2 separate regions of the Homo sapiens genome follow, and region 1 is linked to region 2. The links come from fine-mapping of genetic effects on gene expression. Tissue or cell type: caudate. Region 2 holds a variant in brackets; the other region holds the start of a gene. All regions are shown on one strand. Distances are from middle to middle.

Region 1 (5,152 bases), 310 kb before region 2:
GACCTCTCTGTAATATATGCCAGTAATTCTACTTTGTTTTCTCTTGGTTCATCTGTTTGGGCATTCCCTCTCAGCTTCCTTGGAAGGCATCTCTTCTTCTACTTGCTACTTGAATATCATTATTTTCCAGGATTCCATAATCTTTGTCTTTTTAAAAACTATTATTCTAAATACTCTCTAAATTGGCTGGGCACAGTGGCTCACGCCTGTAATCCCAGCACTTTGGGAGGCTGAGGCGGGTGGATCACTTGACGTCAGGAGTTCGAGACCAGCCTGGGCAACACAGTGAAGCCCCATCTCTACTAAAAATAAAAAAAAAAATAGCCAGCTGTGGTGGCAGGCACCTGTAATCCCAGCTACTCGGGAGGCTGAGGCAGGAGAATCACTTGAACCCAGGAGGCAGAGGTTGCAGTGAGCCGAGATTGTGCCACTGCACTCCAGCCTAGGCAACAGGGTAAGAAACCGTCTCAAAAAAAAAAATACTCTCTAAGTAAAGTTTAAACAATTTTTCACTTATTTAATTGCCCTCTATATTATACTAATGTCTCCCAAATGTTTAGTTCCAAGCAAGACCTCTCTCCCAAGCTTCCGACCGGCATTTCTCAGCAGCCTATCAGGCATCTCCAACCAAAAGTTCCACAGACTCTTCAAATTTTAAATGTTCAAAACTGATTTCCTCCTATTCTTCACAAAACTTGCTATTCTTTCTAGGTTCAATATCTCAGTGAATGGTACTACCATACACTTAGTCTTCCAAGTCAGAACTTGGGAGTCGTAATGGACTCCTCCCCGTCTCTCACTTTCCACATCTACCAACTCCATCTGATTATTCCATTTCCTGCTAGAAATACTTTGATGAACAGGAACCCATGTTTTAACTCACCATTAAAACCCAAAACCTGTCATAGTGTATGGAACATAGTAGGTGCTCTGCAAATACTTTGAAATCAATGATCAAATCAAAGTAAAGAGTCATGGAAAAAAAGATAAAAAGAAAGGAGACAAAGCTGAGAAAAGAAATTCTGCATTTGATTCACACAATGTTTTTCTGGTGGCCATAATACTGAAAATGCCTTGTTTCACTCCTTTTTATGGCTGAAATGAGGTGATTTTTCTTTTTCTCTTTTTTCTTTCTTTTTTTAATTTTTTAATTTTTTTTGAGACAGAGTCTTGCTCTATCACCCACTACACTCGAGTGTAGTGGTACAATATCGGCTGACTGCAGCCCTAACTTTCCAAGCTCAAGGGATCCTCCTGCTTCAGCTTCCTGAGTAGCTGGGACTACAGGCATGCGCCACTATGCCTGGCTAATTTTCTTGATTTTTTGTAGAGACAAGGTCTCATTATGTTGCCCAAGCTGGTCTCGAACTCCTGGGCTCAAGCAATCCTCCCAACTTGGTGTCCCAAAGTGCTAGGGTTACAGGCATGAGCCCCGGCACCCAGCCGATTTTTCTTTTTTTAAAAAAGCAAATTATTTTCCTGGAGGAATTTAAAAGTATAAAAAGTATTAAAACATAATATAGCAATTCAATTACCACCCTCCAGAATGATTCCCCATAATACCCTAGCTATGTGTTCCCAGTATGTTCTATGTGTATATGCTTTAAAAAATAAACACTATATAAGCACAAAAATTCCTCTGATGGTTCTCTCCCACTTTCAAGTTAAATTATGAACTAATTGATATGACCCCTTGTTGCTGCCTGATCTAGTCTCTGCAATATGGAACTTTTGCTATTGTTCTCTGCACTCTTTCATGCCTTTATGCCTTTGCATATGCTTTGTATAGAATATGGTTGACCTCCCTGCCCCAAATCTGACAAATATTTTACTGGTTCTTCAACCAGTTCTCCAGAAGTAGAACAAGTTCTTCCTCCTCTATGTTCCTATAGAACCCTATGTAGACTTCTTTACAGCATTTTGCACATTGTATACTCATCTATTCCTCCCCCCAGATTCTCCTCTACTACAACTCCCCTCACCTGGATTTTGAGCTACTTGAGGGTAGGGACTATTTTTCCAATTCTGTGGCAACAGTGCCTAGCCCAGAGCTTTGCACAAAGCACTATGCTGAATAAATGGTTGAATTTATTAAATCGTCTTCCTCCTTCACTTATCTTTTTAAAATATTGGGCAATTACCTCAGCAAAATGCAATTCCCCTGTCTTTCCCTTCATTTTACTCGTGAGTCGAAAAGTTGTCCTCATCAAGAAGTTGTAGTAATTCAACTGTAACAAGGCTACAAGGATTCATCTCTAACAGAGAAAAAAAAAGGTCAAAAGTTGGGAGTGAAATTAGCCCTAATAAACAACCATTTTCCTCAACCTTTAAGTCACTTGGAAGTGCTTGGCATTCCCCACCTATGTCTTTATCCAGCTCTTGTAACATATTTTTACTCAAAAGGTTAAGTTTCTTAAAGACACATATAGTTACTCGTTTGTACTTAAGTTGTATTGTCTATCTGTTCTAAATTGTTATTTATAGCAGTTTATGTGGCCACTGTTTTTCATGGCAACAACATAGCTTCATTATGGATTAAATAGGCTTCTTCTGGGCTGGTGTAGATCACATTTCTATGCCTATTTATGACACTGTTTCCAGGGGGAACTATAATTTCCAATTAGAAAAAAATATATACATTCTTCCATACCTTTCAAGTGATTTTAATGCAGGTGGTTCACAAGGAACACACTTTAACAATTTTAAAGGACTATAACTCTCAATTAAAATTCTAAGCTTACCAAAGAATAAACATCATCTTTTGAAAAACACTTAAAACTCAATAACAATTTCAAATCACGATAGAAAGTGCTTCCCGCAAAATGCTAAGAGCTTAACCGACATGAAAATAAATCTAGAGCCTTCGTCTGTCCCCACAAGCACAAACCCATAACCCCAAGAGAGATTCTCTAGACAGTGCACCCAAACTACAATACCCAGAATACCCTTCCCCGTCTGAACGCTGGGGACAATCGGAAGGGGAGGGGAAGAATTGTGCGTATAGAGAAATAAGTGTCCCGCAACTCCATCTCCCATAATTCTCGGTCCTCACTTGTGTCTGTCTGCCAATGTCAACACGAGTTACCCCCAGGAAGAACAGCCTCCAGCGACCTCAAACTACATTTCCCATGAAGCCATGGGCTCGGGCCTCCGGCTTCCCCGGTGACCAGTAGCCAATAGGAGACGCCGCAGTGGGCACCCTGTGTGTGAGAGTCCAGCCTTGGGCCAGAGTGCCGGGTCTAGGCCTGGAAGCGCGAGGCGGGCATTTCGGAAGAGAGTGGCGCGGCGTGGGGCGCCGCGAGGGCACTACGAGCCCAGGAACTGCCGCGCCGGCCCGATTTTCCGCGGCTGTATAAGGACTAGCGCTTCGGTAGCCGGGGAGCTGGAGGTCAGAGAGGCAGAAAGCCCCGGTGGCCGTGGCTGGGGACTGTGGGACTGAGGGGGCCTAGGGAGGAGGGTGCTTCCGGGGCCGCGGTCCTCAGCGCCTAACTCCACCCAGCTCCACCTCTGCAGGGGAGGGGGTATCGGGACTGGGAGTCGGGGGTGGGCTTTTGAGCTCTAGGCGCCAGTTCTCTTGAGCCCGGGAGCGCGCTGTCTTTGCTCTTTTTTTTTTTTTTTTTTGGTCCAACTCGCCCGCCCCTTTTTTTTTTTCCCACGACGCCGCCCCCCTCCCCCTGGCTCTGTGCCTCCTCAGAGGTCCGAAGTTGGGGTTTGCGTCCAGGGTTTTGCCTAGGCGGTGACTGGACTCTAATTCTTACCGCAGGAATTGGGTGATCTCTTTCCTCTTTTCCCTCAATTTGTATTTCAGGTTTGGGCACATAACCCTCCCTGCGCTACACTCCCCATTTTCTTTGGGGCATGGGAATTCCTTGCCACGCTCAGGGCGTGACTTTTTTTTTTCAAACTTTCTCTTTTTGCCTCCTTAATTGATCGCCATCTCTTTACTGGCCCCTCAGCCACCTGCCACTTCCCCCACCAGGTCTTTGAAGTGGGGAGAGTTTCCCCTCAATTTCTAGAAGGGATGGGAAGCAAAAGAGGGAAGGAATCTTGCTTTTGAGAAATGTGTGTTTAAGGTTCAGTGCAGGGTTCTGGTGAGAGTAAAAGGCAAGTTAGACTGGTTATAAAAATCCAGCGCTTTAGGGGTTTCCAGCAAAGACTGATAGCACTAATGTTGACAAACATTTAGGGGGCACACCTTTATTCTACAGAATAAAGTAGACCGTGTGAAACAGACCATATTAATCATTGTATTATTACAAACGTGTGCAAAAAACGCTAAGAGGGGTCAGTGGAAGAGCATACTGATGGGGGTGGTGAGTTCATCTATGGAAGTTCAAGCCTAACCCGGGAAGTGCTGAAGCCCTCATCCGGCTTTCAGGCTTTGTGAAGGAGGTGAATTTTAATCTGGGCTCCAGCAGAGTACAGGGGATTTGAAGTTGTCAAAGAGGAGGGAGAAAATGCTTCCTGCTACTGAGATTGGACTTTGAGAAGGGTAAACAGAAGAGGGAGCACTGTGAGACAGGTGGGCTTGCCTGATTGGAATAAAAGATATCAGCACAAATATACTGGGAAATAAATAGGGTGGAGAAGCTTGGGGTCATAATAACATGATACTTTGAAACATACACATAGTTTGGATATTATTCTGTATCAAATAAAATTGAAGGCAAAAATTAAGATTGGATGATTTTTCTTTTCATCCTAGGGAACCTGATTTGAGATCAATTCTTGGAGAACACAAAGAAGTGTGATGGTATGTTCCAGGTGTGAGTTTAAATCCAAGAAGAAGCTTGTCTTGCAGATGTTTTGTTTGTAGCTATTCTTAGCTACAGTCTATAGCTGTCAACTTTAAAGCCTAGAGACATCGATATATTTTCTTAAGAAATGCATTTGCTGTCCCCGTGCATCACATTATCTGAACTGTAGTCATCTCATTGGGTGACAATAATGACTGCTATTTATTGAACCCACATAATGTCCTAGTCATCATCATAAATACTTTGTTGCATTATCTTGAGTGTTATGAAGTAGGTACTATTATTCCTGTTTCTTTTTCTAGAAGAAAACACTAAAATGCACAGAAGTTAAACAATCTACTTAAAGTCACATAGATTATAAGTTGAGTTGAGGTTTGGGTGTACAGATTTCTGAC
Region 2 (5,152 bases):
TGGGAATTTCTCTTTCTTAATTGTATACTCAACTATGCATTTGAAAATGAAATATTCTATCCAGCAATGGGTGTTTTGTAGTCAGAAAATTTTTAAGCTGTCTCATCTATCAAATCACCTTTGTTTCTATTTGCAGCCTTTGGGAGTATTTGGGATCTGAGAAGAAAATCCACACAGAATTCTGGTGGGTTCCTTCTCTCTTGGACAATTTCATGTATGATGTTTATCTCCAGGCTGAATGAAAGACTATAAGGGTCCCTTCTCAATTCCAGGCCATTCTCCATGCTCCTTTCTTTGCTGTAGGCTACAAAACCTCAGCTTTGTCTCATCTCCTCTCCATAGTTGCTATCTCCTCTCCTCTCCCATAATTGTGGTTATGGAAGGGGCCATAACCTCCTCAGCTTCCCTCCTTTTGGGGGCTCTACATAACTACCTACACTTAAATGTTTTATTAGTTCATTTTAAGGACTTTACAAGCTGATCATGTGACGAAACACACAGAGGCTAGCAAAACATGAGACCAGTAAAACATCTTTTAGTTATGGTCCATGTTCTGTTGATCTTTTATATAGGGGACCCCTGACACAAGTTTTCTCAAACTCTGAAGACCAGTGTACAGTGGACCCCAGAGAATCAGCATGATTCTTCAAGAAAGAATCAGTTTCTCTTGGCTCAGCTCTGCCTCCCTCCCTACTCAATGAATGATGATTCTGCTATGGGGAACACTGGCATTTTAAAAAAGTTCATTGATTATGCATCAACATCTGTATGGCAAATGCACCATTCAGCAGTAGCAAGTAGGACACATTGAAATTCTGATTTAATAACAAAAAAGAAATATGCTTTTCACAGATCCATTTATGTGCCAAAATACTAGAGCTGTCAGAACATCTGCAACACTTCATATTAGGACTTTTATTTTCTTTAGTGAAGAAGAAGGTGTGTATGTTTAGAGAGGGATTGTTAACTAGAATTTTCATCCCTGTATATCAGGTAAGTATTAAAAACATATATTTCTATAAGCCAATCTCCCAGGATTTGATTAAGTCTCCCTTGGGCAGTTTCATGCCAGGATGCCACAGATAAGACCAAATCAAAGAATTTAGACAAGCATCCCACAACCCACTTTGTGTAAACTAGCCTTTTTATTTTGACTCTTGAAACCAAACTTCTTTGGTGAATCCTCATGTATTTCTTTCTGGAAAAGAAAAAAGCAAACCATACTTAAATTGAAATATTTCAGTCTATGAATTTACTGTTCATCTGCCCTGAAGCCAGGAGTGATGGGCTGTATGGCCAAAATCCCATAATTATAATTTTTAAAAAGGTCCTCCTCCACTAATCCAGGGATTCTTATCCTGAGGTCCATGAACCCCTATGGGATCCATAGCAGACTTTATGAAGACTTTGAACTCTCCAAAACTCCAAAACTGTGTACTAAATTGTGTAGGGAAGTAGGGGGTTAGGGCTTATGTGCATTCTTTTGGGAAAGAGGCCCTGGCCTTCATCGGATTCTCCAAAATATTCAAAACTCTTTGCAAAAAGTCTGGCTTGGTAGATCAAGAAAAATGGCTAAGTTTCTGCCCCTTGCTACAAAGGCCTTGGGTTTGGTCCCATGTGATTCAGGAGGCTTTCCAAGTGGCTAAAATTCATGAATAAACAGTGTTTATAAATAGGCTCAGACCTGCGAAATGCTGTCCAAAATGGCATGCATGGGTCATGGGTCCAGGACCCATCAAAAGTTATTTTGATGTCCTAGACAACATGCTGAATGTGGGCCCTGATGAGCTTGGGGCAGATGAATCTTACAGTTTGGCCTCTTCCTCTCCAGGCTCTTTGAACTCGGCAGCGGCCTTATGCATGCTCTACAACTCAATATCTTGGCATCCACCTAGCTGTTGTGCTCCTAACTTGGGGTGTCAAACTACAAAGGGAAAAATAATTTTAAATAACAGCAGTTCATATTTATTAAGCATTTCCTCTGTCAAACACTGTGCTCAGTGTTTTATTAATTAATTAATTAATTTATTTATTTATTATTTTTTCAAGACAGAGTTTCACTCTTGTTGCCCAGGCTGGAGTGCAATGGCATGATCTCAGCTCACTGCAACCTCTGCCTCCCAGGTTCAAGTGATTCTCCTGCCTCAGCCTCCCGAGTAGCTGGGATTACAAGCACCCGTCACCACACCCAGCTAATTTTTTGTATTTTTAGTAGAGACGGGGTTTCACCATGTTGGCCAGCCTGTTCTCAAACTCCTGACCTCAGGTGATCTACTCACCTTGGCCTTCCAGAGTGCTAGGATTACAGGCGCGAGCCACTGTGCCCAGCCCGTGCTCAGTGTTTTATATGTCATTTAATCCTCATGACAACCGTGTTATTATTAGCTCCATTTTACTTATGAGGAAACTGAGGCTCAATACTGAGGTTGTGACTAGCCCAAGGTCACAGAGCTGGTAATAGGTGAAGCTGTCAATGTTCATGGTATTTACCATGAGACTACACTGCTCCCCACCTCTCCCCAAATTTCTCCCTCCATTCAGAATGCCTTCGCCTACTCTTATTCGGCACAGTCCATATACTTTCTCCAGGTATTGGTAACCCCAGAAAAAGCAATGAAAGCATTTACAAAATACTATGTGCCAAGCACTGTATCAAATGTTTTTCATGCAGTATCTGATTTAATCTTAACCAAAAACTCCAGTATCCTCTTGCATAGGGCATAATGAAGCAATATGGTTAGCAGTTAATAGCATCGTTTTAGGAATCAAACTACCATTTTACAGATAAGGAAAGCAGAGCCTAGAGAGGCTAAATAATCACCCAAGGCCAAACAGCTAGCAAGTGGCAAAGCTGGGATATGAACTTAAAATTTTCTGACTCAAGAGACTGTGCTGTTAAACACAGAAAACATCTTTTAAAAACACTAAATGTGATGTTAAGACAATCAGTCATCAAAGTTTATACTATTTTAGTGAGGTGGAGAGCAAGGGTAAACACCTAACTTAATTTTCTTTTTTCTGTGACATGTTGCCTTTCCTGTGTCCCTCTCTAGGTGACGGAGCCTCACATGCAGTAATTTGTGCTAACATCAGCATAATGAGACAGAGCCTAGGCACTGTGCATACATAAGCCAAACAATACA[C/G]AAAACTTCCAATTGACTAAACCAGTCATGCCGGATTTATGAAGAGAAAAGAAAAGGGCGGACGACGTGACCAAAATACACTCTCACTGAAAAGCACTTTTTGTCCCCCCACCCCCGCCCCGCATCCCCTGCTTTATTGCCTTGTAAAACAAGAATTACAGCATAAAGCACGTGGCTTATATCACAAGCAGGTCACATGTGGTGCTGGTGACCTGCAGCTCTTATCTACCCCTAGCAGATTCACTTGCAGCCTTCTTCTGTCTCTGCACACTTCCCTGAATATAAACGTGCTTGCTAAGTGGTCTGCACCTTGGGTCCATTCTTGCCTTGGGTAGGGAACACACAGAATTCTGGGACCAGACATGAGGATCTTTTACTTTAGTGAGACAATAGTCTTGGTTTTAATAAAAAGGAGGAGGGCTACTGTGTCTCTGCTGCAGATGGTATTAGGGGAGGGAAGAAGTAGTCAGAATATTAAATCACCTTTCTTTGTATGCATGGTCAGATTTGCTATTCGAAATTCAGCAAGCTTTGAAAACACGACACTGCGCACTGCCTCCAGGTTTGGCAGCTCTTCCTTTTCTGTTGGGATGAGTGCCCGACCTCAGGGAATAGTTCCTTTAGATGTCAGCTACACACTTTGCCCAGACAAAGCTTCCAACAGCTTGACTTATTCCAAAGAACCCCCATAGCAACTGAGAGGCTATTAGCATGGTTAGATGTCGGGTAGGCCGAGCTGCATCCACAGAAAGGGAGAGAAAGAGATGAGAGGGATGTTGTCGATAGAAGCTTCAGGAGTGGGGAAGAAAGCCGCTGAGAATTGTAGACGAATATCTTTTCAGCAAGGTGGCATGAAAGGTCTACATGGAGGTTAGCCTCTGGAGAATTCTTCAACTCCAGATTTTAGTGTCTCAGAGAAAATGTAGTCCTTAGGAAAGGCTGGAACTTTTCCATTATGACACTTGATGATAGCATTATGCGACAGTCAACTTGTGAATGTCAGCATTACCACCATACATTTTCAGTCATTTGCACAATCCATAAACAAATATTCCAAAAAATGTGTCATATTTATTGAACATTGGGTATTTTCCAAGCACTTTTGTGGGACTTACTTTATGAGATAAAGGTAGAATTTATTATCTGCATTTTACAGGCTAATTAATCAAAAGTACTTATTGTGAGCCCACTATATGCATAGGAGACACACATCATACTAGCATACAGTACATAATGAAGCAATGGCTTTAGTGGTTAAAAGATCAAGTTTAGGGCCGGGCGTGGTGGCTCACACCTGTAATCCCAGCACTTTGGGAGGCCGAGAAGGGCGGATCACGAGGTCAGGAGATCAAGACCATCCTGAGTAACACAGTGAAACCCTGTCTCTACTAAAAATACAAAAAAATTGGCCAGGTGTGGTGGCGGGCGCCTGTAGTCCCAGCTACTGGGGAAGCTGAGGCAACAGAATGGCGTGAACCCAGGAGGCGGAGCTTGCAGTGAGCCGAGATGGCGCCACTGCACTCCGGCCTGGGCAACAGAGCGAGACTCTGTCTCAAAAAAAACAAAAACAAAAACAAAAATAAATAAAACAAAAAAAGCAAGTTAGGAGTCGGACTTACCTGCTTTTGAGTCCCCTCTATGCCACTTGCTATGTGACCTTGAGCAGATGTCTCAACCTCTGCCTGACTCAATTGCCTAATCTGTAGAATGGAGATTATAACAACCTCACAGAATTGCTATGATTATCAAATGAGAAGATAATATATGTAAGGTGTTTGGCACTGTACCTAGAATATATCAAGGGTTCAATAAGTGGTAGCTCTGGGGAGTGGTGATATTTTTATCACCAGCTGCAGTAAGGAAAACAATAGATATGAGACAGTCCCTGTGCTCAAAGAGTTCCCTGTCTAGATGGGAAAATAAGTTGTCCACACATGAAAAAAAAATACTATCAACACCAGACAGTAACTATTAAATGCCACATGAGTGATGAAGAAAATGTTACTCAG

The links. PIP is the estimated chance that this variant, and not a neighbour inherited with it, causes the effect.
Region 1: it holds the start of ENOX2, and the variant in region 2 is fine-mapped to the expression of ENOX2 in caudate (GTEx, PIP above 0.99).

What each region holds. Positions count from the first base shown.
Region 1 is chrX:130,901,285-130,906,436 of GRCh38, reverse strand. It overlaps ENOX2 (ecto-NOX disulfide-thiol exchanger 2), which reads left to right and starts at 3,228. Exons shown (of 15, transcript NM_006375.4): 1 at 3,228-3,388; 2 at 4,706-4,753. RefSeq lists enhancers at 3,013-3,202, 2,823-3,342, 3,213-3,482, 3,343-3,862.
Region 2 is chrX:130,592,794-130,597,945 of GRCh38, reverse strand. No RefSeq gene overlaps it. Among named protein-coding and RNA genes, the nearest start is that of RBMX2, 190 kb to the right of the region's middle. RefSeq lists a cis regulatory region at 3,364-3,381 and an enhancer at 3,301-3,445. The variant C/G (reference allele first, on the strand shown) is at 3,144.